Linked DNA regions of Homo sapiens: region 1 is linked to region 2. Evidence: fine-mapped expression QTL. Tissue or cell type: prefrontal cortex. Region 2 holds a variant in brackets; the other region holds the start of a gene. All regions are shown on one strand. Distances are from middle to middle.

Region 1 (8,104 bases), 80 kb after region 2:
CGGTCTCCGTGACTTGGTGGTAGTGGTCCCCCGGGCCCAGCTGTCTTTTATCTCTTTGTCTTGTGTCTTTATTTCTACACTCGTCCCCGCGCACGGGGAGAGACCCACTGACCCTGCGGGCTGGTCCCTACAGGCAGAATATGAATGTGCTTGCATTTCCTGATGAGTGCATAGTAAAGAAATAACACCATGACTCACTAGTATGAAGAGTTCACAGAAACAATGGTGTGAAGCCAAGGAGGGAAGGAAGCCTTGTCAGGACACATAAGCCACCTTGACGAGGAAGCACCAGCCTGCACTCAGAATTTCTGGGTCAGTCTGGCCCCAGTGTGCACGAGCTGATGTCCCACCTCTCCAGCTGCCCAACACCTCTGTTCCTCAGTGTTCTCAGCTTCAATGCCTACCTCTGCCTCAGTGTATTCGGCTTCAATGCCTACCTCTGCCTCAGTGTACTCGGCTTTAATGCCTACCTCTCCTGCCTCTCCTGCTCCATGGCAGGGTGGTACAGACAGGGATGAGGGAGGGTCTGGTGCAGGCAGAAACATCGTCAGGGACACACCGACACACACACACACATACACACACGTGTCCACGTCGAGAACATGAGTCCAGGGCAGCTAACTGAAGTGCAACCTATCCTCCCATTGAACAGAGGTCAGATGGCCCCTAAAATCATTTGTGTAAAAAGTTATTTTTCTATATGTTAAAATATTCATTTTTCTATTTCTGTGGTCTGGCAGTTTTCCCCAAGCTCTTTCTGCTTCTTCCCTGGAGCCACTAAGAACATGGCTGGACCACATTTCCAGCCTCTGAAGTCGAGGGCAGCCGTGCACCAATTTCTGGTCTGGAAAGCACACCATGCATGCACAGGCTTGGTCCTGTCACAGCCCGTGCACAGCCCTTCATGCTGGAGGCGGAGGGCTCCAAAGGCTGAGGAGAGGGGCCACGGTGGTGGCACCTGGCAGCCTGTGCTGCTCCCACTAAAGGGTGATCAGGACACCAGGCTGGACTGTTGTGTAAGCAAGAGAGAAACATTTAGTGCATGAAGCTGAGGTCACTTCTGTCAGCCTACCTTGACTGATGTGGGTACCTTGAAGCAGGATGCTTCAGTGACACTGTAGGATGTTGCTGAGTGACTGAGTGATGGGGCACAGAAACAAATTCAGGAGGGGAAAAGCTCAAGACTCACGTTAGGCAGTGACAAACAGGTTCAACTGCAACAACCTGTAATAACGCAGAAAACTTACCACAGGCTTACTCTCCTGCAGCCCTACAGGAAATTATTGCAAAGAATACGCATTAGCAGCCAACACACGGAATTGGACTAGAGAACTGGCTGGTGTGCAAGCGGAATGGACACGAAAAGAAAGTACGAAGAGCAGGGGCTGCAGCACTGGGAAACCTGAGTGCCCTGAGAGGCTGCAGGGAGGGACAAAGGACCATCAGGTCTTGGCCCTTCAGCAAAGATCTGACCTAGGATGGCTACCTTCCCACTCAAGCCTTTGTTCCACATAACCTCAGGGTATCAGCTGCCCAGGAGACCAAAAGAAAATAAAGTCAGGCTTGAACAGTAGACACAGGAAGAACGACAATGGCATCACCAGCACACAGAGCTGACGAGATACACACAGACCAGAAGCTGCTGTGCTCGTGAGGACACGATGAAGCCTAAGAAGTATCAAGCAAAGAACAGAGTAAGGGCACACGGTGGGCTCAGGGCTGACTGCCTGGTCCCCACTGCCATGCTCCAGGAGTGAGCTATGGCAGCCTTCCAAGACAGCATCCTCATAGCCACATCAGATGAGACCGTGGAGGAAAAGGACTAAGGGTAGAATCAAGGGCCTCAGCAAACAAGCCAGGCACAGTGGCTCACATCTGCAATCCCAGCACTTTGTGGGGCCGAGGCAGAAGGATCACTTGAGCCCAGGAGTTCAAGACCAGCCTGGGCAACATAGTGAGACCCTGTCTCTACTTTAAAAAAAAAAAGTAGTCAGGTGTGGCAGTGCATGCTTGTAGCCCCAGCTGCTGGGGAGGCTGAGGTGGGAGGATCGTTTGAGCCACGGAGGTTGAAGCTATAGTGAGCTGTGATTGTGCCACTCTACTTCAACCTGGACAACAGTGACATCCTGTCTCAAAGGAAAGAAAAAGAACAATGGACAAGGGAATTCCTCCCAGATAGCAGAATCAGGGTCTAGTTGGGAAATTCCTCCCACCTCCACCCCAGCATCACTTCAAAACTGCTATAGACCAGTGTCTGCCATGTGTCTCCCTTTTCCAAAAGGGAGATGGTTACAAAAACCATGGTCATATTTAACCACTGCATTTTAGTGGGGAGAGCAACTAGTTTGTCTTCTTAGTCCATAGGGCTCTGGACCACGAGGAACCACAGCCAGGCCTGATGGAGAGAACTGTGCAATCCTGAGAAATGTTCTGTGTTGCACTAGGCACCTTGACAAAGTGTCCCCCTTGGGGTGGGGAGAGTGTGTTCTCCATGTGGGATCAAGAGTGGAGCAGAGATCTGGTCACCAGAAGAGAGACTACGGTAAGTGCTGTTCCTTTTCCACTAAGCCACTTCCCTTTCCTTCTAGACACAGAACTAAACTACACTCCCTAGCTTCCCTTGCAATTAAGTGCAGCCATGTAGTCGTTGAGTGCCTGGCCCATAAATTCCTCCTGCACTGCCTCTCTTCTTTCCCCACCCACTGGCTAAATGCGGAGAATTCAGAGGGCCTAAGGAAAAAAACCACAACATGGAAGAATTTTAGGCTGCAGCTTGCAGAGAGCTGCCCAAAGGAATCGTCTGACTAGAAACCGCTACACAGGACTGTGTGAGCAAGAAACATGCAACTGTTCTATTGGGGTGAATTGCTACAGCACTTAACCTACCTCCACTAATATAAATTGTTTAACATTTTTTTGAATTACAAAAGCAATACAATACAAAACATTTAAACAATGCAGAAATAATAAAGTTTTTTATCCCTACCTCCTCTCCCTGCTGTGCCAACCCTAGGGGATAATCAATGTCACAGGATATCCCCAGGAATATCCATGTACATACATGCACAGAACAAGTCAGGGAAAATAAACTAAATTTATTATTTTAGTGAGATTCTAGTGCACCTAACACTAGGTAAGCACTTCAGGAAAAGGCAGTGACAAGTGATTGCTAAAGATACCATAGTCTTAAAGTTAAGTCAGTAAACACAAGATAGTAATCCCAGATAAACTGGAAGCTGTAGAGTTAATACTCCTTTACTGGTACAGAGCAGTGTGTGTAAATTGTAGAAAATTTAGAAATACATAAAAAGATGAAAACTCTACTACTCGAGGAGTACCACTGATAAAATCCTGTGCATTTCCGTTTTTTTAATGTACATACGAATATTTTTAAAAAGAGAAAATTACTCCCTTCTGATTAGAAAAGATCGAAATTTTTCTCTTTTAGTGATAATCAAGTCAGAAACTTGCTGTTTGGCTCGAGTTAGGAAAACCTAGCCTGGTAGTTACCACGCAGGTTGAAAGGCCAGTGGGGCATAATTAACGAGCCCTCAGGGTCCACGCTCCCGCCCTCGGAGCTCAGAACCGACGGGAGGTGCAGGAGGCCGGGCATTTCTACAGCCCTGGTTCGTTCCTAAACTACTGAATCTTTTAAAGAGATCTGAGTGCTCCTTATACACAGCTGCTTTAATTAAAATAACCACCTGAGCCCTTTTCCTCCGAACTCCACATGCGCTCAGTTCTCAAAGCGCCGATCTCAAGCGGCCGCCCGGATGCTCCGGCCCGACTTGTGCCCCGAATTCCCCTGGAGACCCTCGCACTAGCACGGCGTCAGGAGGAGGCTTCGGGTGACGAGACAGCGGGCAACGGCTCTGGTCCAGAGCGCGCGTGTCCGCCGTTGGAAGCGGTCACGGCGGAACCCTCAAATCGCCCCCTTTCCTAGAGACCTCAGCGGAGCCGCGAGCAACCGCGCAGCCCCCGCGCTCCAGCCCTGCGCCCTAGGCACACGCCCCAGAGCAGCAGCTCGGGTTCGGCGCCGACTCCGCGCCGAGACCAGCCCGCTAGGGGAGGACTCACAGCACCCAGCTCCCAGGAGGGCACGCAGAGGACTACCGAGCCACACTCCGCCCCACGCTCGCCGCTATGGTTACTTGCCAGCCGACCCACGCGAGCCGCTATGGTTACTAGCCCGCCGCCCCTCGCGCCCACGCCCCTTTCGCTATCTCGCGACAGCTGGAGAAGCCTCGCTTCCGGCCGGCTCACTTACGGACCTAGCGTCACTTCCGCCTCCGGCGAGGCTCCGGCCTCGGGTCCGGATGTATAAAGCGCGGCCCCCTGCGGGGAGTGGTGGTGAGTCCGAGGGTGCCACAGCGGCCCTGCCCCTGCCCCTGCCCCTGCCCTGAGTGGGCGCCGCGCTACGGGGGAGGGGTTAACCCACCCCTCCTCCCCGGGGCCTCACGCGGGTGGGAAGGGACAGTCCCAGCGACAGACCAGGCGCCTGGACGCGCCGTGGACCCGCGTGCGGACGGCGGGGACAGGCTCCGGTGCTGAGCGCCTCCGGTGTCCCCAGCAGCACTGACCCACTTGCAGGCCCCGGAGCTGAGCCGCCAGCCATGGCCGCTCCCCGCGGGAGGGCCGCGCCCTGGACGACGGCCCTGCTGCTGCTCCTAGCCTCGCAGGTCCTGTCTCCGGGAAGCTGCGCGGACGAGGAGGAGGTCCCCGAGGAGTGGGTGCTCCTGCACGTCGTCCAGGGCCAGATAGGCGCCGGGAACTACAGCTACCTGCGGCTGAACCACGAGGGCAAGATAGTCCTCAGGATGCGCAGCCTCAAGGGAGATGCGGATCTGTACGTCTCCGCCAGCAGCCTGCACCCCAGCTTCGACGACTACGAGCTGCAATCGGCCACCTGCGGCCCGGACGCCGTGTCCATCCCCGCGCACTTCCGGCGCCCAGTGGGCATCGGCGTCTATGGACACCCCTCCCACCTGGAGAGCGAGTTCGAGATGAAGGTGTACTACGACGGCACGGTCGAGCAGCACCCGTTCGGCGAGGCCGCCTACCCCGCCGACGGCGCAGATGCCGGCCAGAAGCACGCTGGTGCCCCGGAAGACGCCTCGCAAGAGGAGGAATCTGTTCTCTGGACGATATTAATTAGCATTTTGAAACTGGTACTTGAAATTCTCTTTTGAGTCGTTGACCACACTCTGGGATATAAAACCCTCCATCTGTGAAGCTGATTGCAGTTTGCTGTGAACCTTGCTACTTGTACTTGGTTGAAGTTCTAGGTACCTTTAGTCAAGGGATGGAAAAATAAAGCCATACGCAGTTTTGTTACCTCAGTTACCCCAAAAATAGGAAAAGCAGCAAGCACAGTATTTTAAAGATCATAATTCCTATAAAAGGACTGTGCACAAAGTGTTTAGACTCCATTTTCATTAGGCAGGTTGACTAAAAATGATTGCAGTAACAGGTTTATATAAAATAGAGCAACCTTTCATGCTGTGACACAAATCAAAAGGTTGATAACTTTGTAATTTTACTCTGGAGATTCTAACCGAAGTTGGTGTAAGTTTTCAAGAGTTACTAAAATCAAGTTGGAAATGATTTACGTACACTTCCCTGAGCCTGGACTAAAGCCTCATGCCTGTACCCCAAGTAGGTGATGGTACTTTTCTATACAAAAAGGATTTCCTGGCAGGCAGGTATTTACAAAGTTTGTTCCTGTACCAGTCCAATAATGACAACTCTAAATCCAGCTGCACCAAATCTTAGTGGGCCATTTGTCATACCTATGAAAATTCTTCAGTTATTAAATAACTTTGTCAGTGCTACCTATGGTAGGCCGGAAACAATGTAGATTAGGAAGTTTCATGAAAATTAACTTTTGGGGCTATGGAGAAACAGTTAAGTATCTTAAGTTACTAAACATTTCCACTGAATTTTTGGAGTGAGCCAAGGTTACTATAAAATACTTTGGAAGATGAATTCTCTACCTGGAGTTAGTTTCGAGAGTAAGCGTAGCTTTTAACAGAAATAACTGCAGATTTTAAGCTCATAATTTGCAAAAAAAATCTTTTATTGGCATGAAAATAATGTTGTAAATGGCACCAAATATTCCACTTAAATGCATATACAGTATTAGAGTCAAAAACTATTTTATCCCTCTTTGCTGTTTTTCCCCCTTCTGCCCACTTTCCTGGGTGTTGGGGGGGCCCGCTGACAACAGTCACAAATCCAGCGACCTAGGAAAAAAATTGTTAATATAGAATGAAAAATTATCTTTACAGGACTGAATTTTAAGCCCATCTAAACTCTTCTGCCTTAGCTATCACTAATGATATTCCTCTCTGGATTTTGTGGTGAGAAGGGCACTATGAGTTCCTTAATTTAAGGAAAAAATGTAAACTTAATCAATGTAATCAATGCCATGCAAAATTCATTGCAAGTCAAGGGGGATGGGAGAGATGCAATGCCATACGGTGATACGGACCTTTAAGAAAGTACAATCTTTCCTGAAATTCAAACACTATCATACTTCAAAAGGTCAAAACCCATTCCGGAATTTGGCTTTTTTAAGACTTTTTCTCTCCTGCTCACTGGCAGCTGTGTGTCTTAACAGCATTCTTTCAAGTCCTGGTGTACTCTGCTGACAGCACTTTAAAACTTTAACAGCACAATGATAACTTGTACTACATACTTGATCTGAATTACTACAGAAAAATAATTATGTTGCTTGCTTAATGATTCCCAGGAAACTTCGTTGTAGGCATATATTTTATAAGAGTATTATACAGTGTTAACTATGCAAGTAAGTTCTAAAATTACACAATTATCTGTGTAATGTTTTAGTCCAATTACTGTGATTTATTCAACTCTGTTCTAAAGTTATCTGGAATTGTCATGCTGCCTCAATTTACAGAAATCTATAATAGATTTCTATAGAAATGTATAAAGACGTAGCAGTCATTTTGTTGTTTCTAAATAGATAACATATAAAAATAAAGGCTTTGTTACTTTAGTATTTCAGTAGAAAAACACCAGCTCATTCTATAGAACTATACTTCCAAAACTTAGCAGGGGCATTCTGGCCTTTCACTTATCCTTTAGTTGGAATTGTCTAGGGATGAAAAGCTGGTGGACATGACCTGTATAATCACAGCTTTGGTCATATTTGCACATAAGAGTCCACAAGCTCTTCATGTCATGATAGCGTTTATGCAGCCTTTTGGAGTGCTGGGAGAGTCTCATCACCCAAAGATAATGTTTGCTCTTTTTTTAATCTTTACCTGATGGAATAGCACCAAGGCCCACACAAAAAGTATGATAACCTCTGTCACACATATCACAGAACATCATTTCTTCTTCATGGTGGGGTTGTCCACATATAATGCATGTTTTACATTCCATACACTGCCATGGGTAGGTCTTAATCATAGAAACAAGCTCCATTGTCATATCCAGGCAAGAAGGATGGCCTAAATCAAAACCAGTATTAGTGGTATCTCACATAAGAAATTTTAACTTAATATGGCACATAAAATACTAGTTTGCTTTAGGACTTCCAGAGAATGGCTATAATGTCAAATCGCCAAAGAGAAATGAATATACAATGTAGAGGAAAACACATGGGCTGTGTCTATGCCTCACAAGCTACCCTGTGTATTTAATTTGGTGACTCTTTGGTTGAAATCTGCCTGAAACTATAAATTCTAGTTTTTGAACCAATAAATACGGTGGTTAAAATTTTAAAAAGACATTTCAATACTTACCACTATTCTCACATTGGGAGCAGTGTATAAGTGATTCAGCCTTTCCTTTCTTGTTGGACTCCTTACCCTTCAGACAAATTCCACATATAGCATTTGGAATGACCTTTGGCTGGAAGGGTAGAAGAGGGCTATAAATTCATGCCAGAAGAGCTTACTATGGGTTTAAAAGGAATTCTGTTACTTTATTGCCCTATTTTTACTTTTGGTAACTTGCTAATGAGGACCATTTTGAAAGACAAAACTTGACAGGAGTCTGCCTACAATGTAAGACTGCCTACTGAAGAAAGCATTAATTTCATCATAAAATTTGGTAAACAGCATGATCTCGTAAGATT
Region 2 (8,104 bases):
GGTAGCCTTTCCTATTGGCACAACTGCCAGTATTCGCGTTTACAAGCTTCCAACTTGTTTGTCTAACTCTGCAGCTCGATTTTACAGCCTGCTCTTCGTTAGAAAAGAAAATGATTTGGGGGCTGTTCTTCATTAAAAGGAAAACCTTAGGGAGGATTCCCATACCTTCATTATCTGCCTAAGTAATTTCTTCTTAACTCCTGTATCATTGCTTCTGAATGGGTACTAGGGAAAGACCCATACCAAATTCAGCAGTGGTTATCAGAGAAGAAGAAAAGGGAGGGATGTGGGTAGGGTTTTCTCTGCATCAATAATCATTTCATTTCCTTTTTAAAAATACAGCAAGATCTAAAACTAATAAAGCAAAATAACATAAGTGACTATTCCTGAAATCTAGAATCATATGTAATAAAATTATTTCATTAAAAAAGCTGTTTAAACTTTTACACATTGTTTTTAATTAAAATTAGCTGTCTAGTATTATGTATTTATATCACAAAATAGTACATATTTTATTCAGAGGCAGGCAAAGAGTAGTATCCTATCAAGTTTTAAAAATATATAAAGTATCTACACCTGCTAGGACTTTAAGGATATCAATAAATCATAAAACACGTATGCATTTTCATTTTTTAAATGAGCCATTTAATAATATAACACATAAAATAGGAAAATATGACCATCACTTTTTGATGCATCTGGCACTCTTGTTAATACAATACTAAAATGAATTTAAAATTCCATTTGTCCAACAGAATTAAGATAACTATAGGAGTAATTCTCAGAAGAGATCATGTTAATGGTGGTGCACTTGGATGACTGCAAAAAAAAAAAAAAAAAAAAAACATTATTGATGCATGACTAATGTGGCTGAGGTGGTTACTAAGCTTAGAAGAAATTAGAAATGCCCTGTTTTATATGTTACTGGAAATACAGCATTTGGGCCAATGATAATTTCTGCTTCTCCTGTATTTGGACTTGTAGGATGACAGTTTGTGAGTAGCAGCCCCCACATGGCTATGGTTAGTTTGATGTACATTGTGCAACTGAACAAAAATGTAAGATAAGTTTTTTTAAAAAAGCTATTAAAAAATAGTGTAAACCTCTGTAACCTTACACTCTTTCCCTTTCATTCCATCAAATACCATTCAGATGTTTATTTTCAGGAAGTAAAACCCGTAATTTTCCCATAAAAAACCTCAGAACTATTTTTCTTAATATAACACCTCTCATCCAAGAGTACACCACAATGATTCACAAAATATTACAATCCCTACTGAAAGACCACATAGATTTGACAGGATTCAGGCTACTGTATAGTCATTGCTCAAGCTGTTGAAAAATGTAGACATTTTAAGCAGTTTCCTAAAGCAAAGACACTAAACCTCTTAACAAAAAGCTAAGATTTTAAAAGAGAGGAACTCTCCTTGAATTGGGAAATTAGACGGTCACCATGTCATTCCAGGAACAAAGCGAGGCACATCTACACAACAATGGCTCTTCACAAGGCCAACTTGTAAAAACAGTCTTCACCACAGCACTTGGAATGAAATATCCTATGCGCCTCTTGTCGACAGAAAGAGTAAAACTCTGTAAAATATTGGAAGAAATTTATTCTGGGCCAAATATGAGTGACCACGGCCCGTGACACAGCCCTCAGGAGGTCCTCAGAACATGTGCCCAAAGTGGTCAGGTGCAGCTTGGTTTTATACATTTTAGGGACGCATGAGACATCAATCAAAGACATTTCAGAAATACACTGGTTTCCCACCTGGGAAAGGCAGGAAAACTCAAAGTGGGGGCTTCCAGGCTCTAGGTAAAAGTAAACATTTTCTGGTTGACAATTGGTTGAGTTTCTCTGAAGACCTGGGATCAATAGAAAGGAAATGTTCAGTTTAAGATAAAAGACTGTGGAGACCAAGGTTCTTTTGAAGCCTCATTAGTGGCTGCCCTTGGAGACAACAGGTGACAAATGTTTCCTGTTCAGATCTTTAAAAGGTGCTAGACTCTTAATCTGTTTAGGATTGGGAGGGCCTGGAAGAAAGAGATCTAGCCATGTTAATAGAGATTCTTCACAGATGCATGACTAATGTGACTGAACTGGTTTTCCCACACAAAGGACAGCTTTGCAGGGCCATTTCGACATATGGCAAAGACACATGTTTTGGAGTGAAATATTTTTATTTTCTTCCTTGTCTTGTAATGTTATGCCAGAGCCAGGTTGGAAAATAAGTCATGATACATAAGGTTAAATAAAACCCATCTGACGAGAATTGATGGTTTTTAAAGCATGACTCCTCAGACCCCTTAATCAGAGCCTAGTCCTCACCCCTTTAGGACACACCTTACCTGCAGGGATGCTGTCTCAGGGAGCCAGCTTGTCCAGATGTCCATCAGGAATGTGACAAGAAAATGAATCTTGGGACCCCCAAATCACTAAGCCAAGGGTAAAGTCAAGCTGGGAACTGCCTCAGGCAAAACCTGCCTCCCATTCTATTCCTAAGTAAGATAGCTACAAAGATAAGAAGCTACAGACCTCCCTCACAATTTGCCCACAAGGAAATTCCTTGTGGACAAAGGACAGTCAGAACTCAAAGACATCCCTCCGAGGCTTCCCTGAAACAAATGCGTATCTCATTGCTTCCTCTCCCCTATTGTTTATGTAAAAATGATGATTCACTGAGCTAGACTAAATTGTGTATTCAGTGGAAAGCTGATCAAGGACTCAAAAGAATGTAACCTTTTGCCTCTTATCTACTCATGACCTGGAAGCCCTCGCCTCAAATCCCACTTTACCTGACTGAACCAAAGTACATGGTACACATATTGATTGATATCTCATGTCTCCCTAAAATGTATAAAACCAAGCGGTGCCCCGACCACCATCGTCAGGAACTCCTGATGCTATGTCATGGGTGCATCCTTAACCTTGGTGAAATAAACTTTCTAAACTGACCGAGACCTGTCTTAGATATTTTGATTTAACAAGGGGCTCGAGGTCCACCCCTCCACCGGCTTCACCACACAGTCCACCTCCTGTACTCTGCTCCTCCAGACATAGACATAGACCTGCTCCTCCTGCACTCTGCTCCTCCAGACATAGACCTGGCACCCTTCCCTGTGTCATGAACCTGCTGCTCTAGTTACCTGGTCAGCACAGAGCACCTGACCTTGTGTAATACACGTGTTCCTATGTAAGAAAATACAATTCTTGAGCACAAGGACTTTGCCCTCACTTCATCTAACTCTTCATTCACAGAACACTGCCAAGTGCACAGCAGCAGCTAATAGATATTTTAAATGAATTAATTAATAGGCACTTTAATGAATACTATAATTAAAAGCACATATACATATGCATACACATGCATGCACATATACATACATACACCCATGCACGCTCGCATATGCATATACACACACATGCACACAGGCATATACATACCCACACATACATTCATGCATACACACACACACACACATGCAC[G/A]CACGCATATACATACCCACACACGCATTCACACATATACATACGCACACACATGCATGTAGACATACGCACACATGCATGCATGTAGACATACGCACACACATGCACACATGCCTATACATACACACACGCGCATTCACACATATACATATGCACACATGCACACACACATATACATATGCACATGTGCATGCACACATATACATACCCACACATGCATTCACACATATACATACACACACACGCACGCATATACATACACACACGCATTCATGCATATACATACACATGCACGCACGCATATACATACCCACACATGCATTCACGCATATACATACCCACACATGCATATACATACCCACACATTCATTCACGCATATACATACCCACACATGCATATACATACCCACACATGCATTCACGCATATACACATTCACACATATACATACACACACACACGCACACATATATACAGACGCACACACATGCATGCATGCATATACATACCCACACATGCATTCATACATATACACACGTATTCACGCATATACACACATATTCACGCATATACATATGAACACACTCAGGCATTCACACACAGGCACATATACTTGCACACATATACACACTGTGAAAGGAAAATAAATCTCTGGGCCCCCAAATCACCAAGCTAAAGGGAAAAAGTCAAGCTAGGAACTGCTTAGGGCCAACCTGCCTCCCATTCTATTCAAAGTCACCCCTCTGCTCACTGAGATAAATGCAGATCTGACTGCCCCCTTTGGAAAGACTCATCAGAAACTCAAAAGAATGCAACCATTTGTCCCTTATGTACCCAGGACCTGAAGGTCCCCTCCCTGATTTGTGTCTTCCTGCCTTTGCTTCGAGTTGTCCCACCTTTCCAGACCGAAGCAATGTTCATCTTATGTATGTTGACTGATGTCTCATGTCTCCCTAGAACGTGTGAAATCAAACTGTGTTCTGACCACCTCGGGCAAATGTCGTCAGGACCTCCTGAGGCTGTGTCACGGCACCCATCCCCAACCTGGGCAAAATAAACTTTCCAGTTTCACTGAAACCTGCCTCAGATGTTCAGGGTTCACACACACGCACATACAAACCAAATTTAAGGTGGGAGGAAATGAGCAGTGGTATATTTAACTGCTATTAGGAACAGGTATTGAATTAAGAGTTCAGCCCAAAGTCAGACTGTTAACACTTTACTCTCCATGGCCATTTCACTGAATGTTTATAGAAAAAAACAGAACCACTTGGAAAACAATATGAATAAAACAATCTCCACAAAGAGATGAAGAAATGACTGAAAACGAAGTTTAACATAAAATCTATTATTCATTATTTTTACCAGAGCTATAAAAACAGGAAACTTTTCAAAGAAGTGATATTTTTACTGTGTCCCTCCTCAGGAGAGCACTGCAGTGTTTCGACACGGGAGAAGCGTCCCGGTGAAACAGCCATTGCAAAATTACAACTGAGACAGTGAAAGAAACCTGACCTAACCAGCTCTATCTTGCTTCTAACCTCCAAGCCGTCCTTTTCATTCCTGGGCTGAGGCCAAACTAACTTGGGGAGGAACTTATAGTTTAGCTTTGAAACAAAGATGGTAACAACCCTTTCCCAAAACAAATCCCCTTCTTGCCTGGGGACCAGACTGCCTTTGTAGGACCTACAAATTAGCTCAAAGATTAGAAATTATGGTTTAGGAGTAATGTAGCTGGAGGCTACAAGATTCTGACCACCTCCCCCACCCCTACCCAAAATTGCTCCTGGGGATAACATCACTATTGTAAAACCTAAGATCAGTGCTTGAGATATTTTGCATACCCTGCACTGAATGGATCAGCTGGTACCCCACCCGATCAATAAACTGGTTCAGCTGGTCGTGCGGCCCCCACCCAGGAACTCACTCAGCACAAGAGGACAGCTTTGACTCCTGATGATTTCACCTCTGACCTGACCAATCAGAACTCGTGATTCACTGACTCCACCCACCCACCAAATTATCCTTAAAAACTCCCACCCCCAGATTCCTGGGGAGACTGATTGGAGTCATAATAAAACTCCAGTCTCCCATACAGCCGTCTCTGTGTGAATTACCCTTTCTCTATTGCAATTCCCCTGTCTTGATCAACTGGCTCTATCTAGGCAGCAGACAAGGTGAACCATTGGGCGGTTACCCCAGTGGCTCAGCTGTGGCCCTCAGCCAGTGACGGCACCACTCACCGGGCCCGCAGGCTTCACACAGAAGTCACAGCCTGCGTACCCACTCACATGCAGAGACAGTGAGGGTCCAGCCAGGGTGCCCAAGAGAGCCATGGTGGGGGAGCATCAACAACCCACATTTGGGATGAATTATTCTGAACCGTTTAGAAGAAAAACTGGTCATTTACTTATTTATTTTGTTTTTAATTGACCCATAAGAACTGCACATATTTTGGGGTACAGCATGGTGTTTTGACACACACGTGAGGCCCCAATCATGGGATTTAGCACATTGAAAACTCCTCCCAACGGCTACTCAGTGCCAGCCTGGGCCTGTTTTCCTCACACTGGCTGAGGGCACACTTCTCTAGGTCCTAGTAAATGAGCCTAGGAGTGACACAGCCTGAGCAAAAAGAAGGTAGACACAAACACAAACAGCAAAACCAGCTAACAGGCAGCCACCCACGAGGCGAGGTGAACACCAGACACAGGATTGGGGACATGGGGCCCTGGAGACACCACATGCCGCGTGTGGGGTCAGGTGTGCCGTGTGTGGGGTCAGGTGTGCCGTGTGCAGCATGTGGCATCAGGTGTGCCGTGTGTGGGGTCAGGTGTGTGGTGTCAGGTGTGCCGTGTGGGGCGTCAGGTGTGTGGCGTCAGGTGTGCAGCGTGTGGCATCAGGTGTGCGGCATGTGGCAGGTGTTCCGTGTGCGCATCAGGTGTGCCATGTGGGGCGTCAGGTGCGCAGTGTGTGGCGTGTGGTGTCAGGTGTGTGGCGTCAGGTGTGTGGCATCAGGTGTGCGGCGTGTGGCATCAGATACACTCTGGATCCGAGGACAAAGAACACCCACGAGAACCTTCCAGGTGTGCAAAAGGAGATTCGAAGCTCACCAGAGTGCAGCCCCTCATGCGTCTCTCTCAAGCTCGAGTGACTTAGTGAATGAAACGCTCGTGTCCACTCGGAACTGCTTAGGGAGCCGGAGGGAGGCTGGGCTGTGCCCTGGTGCCATCCCCGATCCCCCTCAGCCCAGCCAGGGACATGCAGGACCTAAATCGAAAACAGCCATCGACCGTTTCCAGGGAGTCAGGTGACCTCCCAAGTTCTCTAATAACTAAAGAAAACTTCATTAATTTTCATAAATAAAAAGGATAAAGTAACCAATTTAATTAAATAATTTTCCCATGAGAGTTTGACAACCACTGAGAAGAGAGCTCACCTGACCGTCAACTAGAGCCCTTGCTGTGGCCTGTGACTGATGCCTGGCCCATGAGACACGTGAGCCGCAGCCATGCAACCCCATGGGATGAAAAATTCGAGATGTGTGTTCACTGCAGCTCCAGGTAGATGGCACGAGACCAGGAACACAGGTTCCCTTGAGTCAGAGCATGGAGAGTACAAGAGCAGCCGTCCCACAGCCTGGCTGGGCAGTCAACTGTGGCAGCCCTCACCCTCGGGGCCCGGCCCATCCACTGAGGGGACCTGCAAGATGCAACTCCTGTTCTAGGCTTCACTTGGCATCTGGAATAAACACACACGTAGCTGCTTCTCTTATGTCACCACTATGGAAAGCCAAAGGCTGAGTCCTGGAGTGTCCGCGCCAGCAGCAGGTCATGGAGTTCTTCTGGGTCCACGATGGCCCTGCTGAAATACTGAAAAAGGAAGGCAGATCCAACGGTTGTAACTCAAACAGGCCCCTTAAAACTGCCAGGACTGGGCTTGGACTAAGCAAGCAATTTTTGAGCACCGACTGTATGCTAGTAACGGATGGCTCTGTCCTCAAGATGAGACTCTCACAGGAGAGAGGATTAATTCCACGTCATTCCGACTGCACTGATGAGCCCTGGAACAGCAGTGTAGACACAAGACCAAGTAAGGGGCCGAGTCCAACTACTGAGAGGCCAGGGAGGCCTCCTGGGGTGGTGGTGGAGACTGAGCCTGGACAGTCGGAAGGGTCTGCCCGTGACCCGGGCCACAGAGCAAGAGCACAGACAGAGTGCAGCTGGCGGACGCTCAGCTCCATCTTCTGAGAGCCCTGGGCTGAAGTGCCGGGGACCAGGCCCGACGGGGTCAGTCCTGTGTCTCAGAGTCAGCCCCGTTCACTGGGCTCACTGTCAGGTGGGTGCAGTCAGGAAACCGGCAGGCAGGTGCAGTCGGGAAACCAGTGTGGAGCCTTAGCTGCTCCATGGGGTCAGAGCTTAGGTGCCAGTGGTGCCTGCTCAGATCTCACGCCGGCACCCCTACTCCGTCTGGGGCTCTGGGGGGGATGAGGATGCCCCGTGCTCCACGTTCATGATGCTGTGACTCTGAGACCAGAGCCCGCCTCTTCTCAGCAGATAGAGCATGTGTGTCACATGGGAGCTGGCCCTGATGCCCTCCTGTGACTGTCCAGGCCACC

What was found. PIP is the estimated chance that this variant, and not a neighbour inherited with it, causes the effect.
Region 1: it holds the start of WDR27, and the variant in region 2 is fine-mapped to the expression of WDR27 in prefrontal cortex (CommonMind, PIP 0.91).

Annotation. Positions count from the first base shown.
Region 1 is chr6:169,697,847-169,705,950 of GRCh38, forward strand. WDR27 (WD repeat domain 27) reads right to left here and starts at 4,183. Exons shown (of 26, transcript NM_182552.5): 1 at 3,705-4,183. C6orf120 (chromosome 6 open reading frame 120) reads left to right here and starts at 4,280. Exons shown (of 1, transcript NM_001029863.3): 1 at 4,280-8,104. The coding sequence starts at 4,614. The coding sequence ends at 5,189. It overlaps PHF10 (PHD finger protein 10), which reads right to left. Exons shown (of 12, transcript NM_018288.4): 10 at 7,770-7,878; 11 at 7,287-7,475; 12 at 6,056-6,242. The coding sequence ends at 6,157. RefSeq lists enhancers at 3,737-3,816, 4,137-4,226 and a silencer at 4,277-4,646.
Region 2 is chr6:169,617,805-169,625,908 of GRCh38, forward strand. The region is part of intron 21 of WDR27 (WD repeat domain 27); the gene reads right to left. Among named protein-coding and RNA genes, the nearest start is that of WDR27, 80 kb to the right of the region's middle. RefSeq lists enhancers at 1,130-1,774, 1,775-2,419, 6,355-6,854. The variant G/A (reference allele first, on the strand shown) is at 3,488.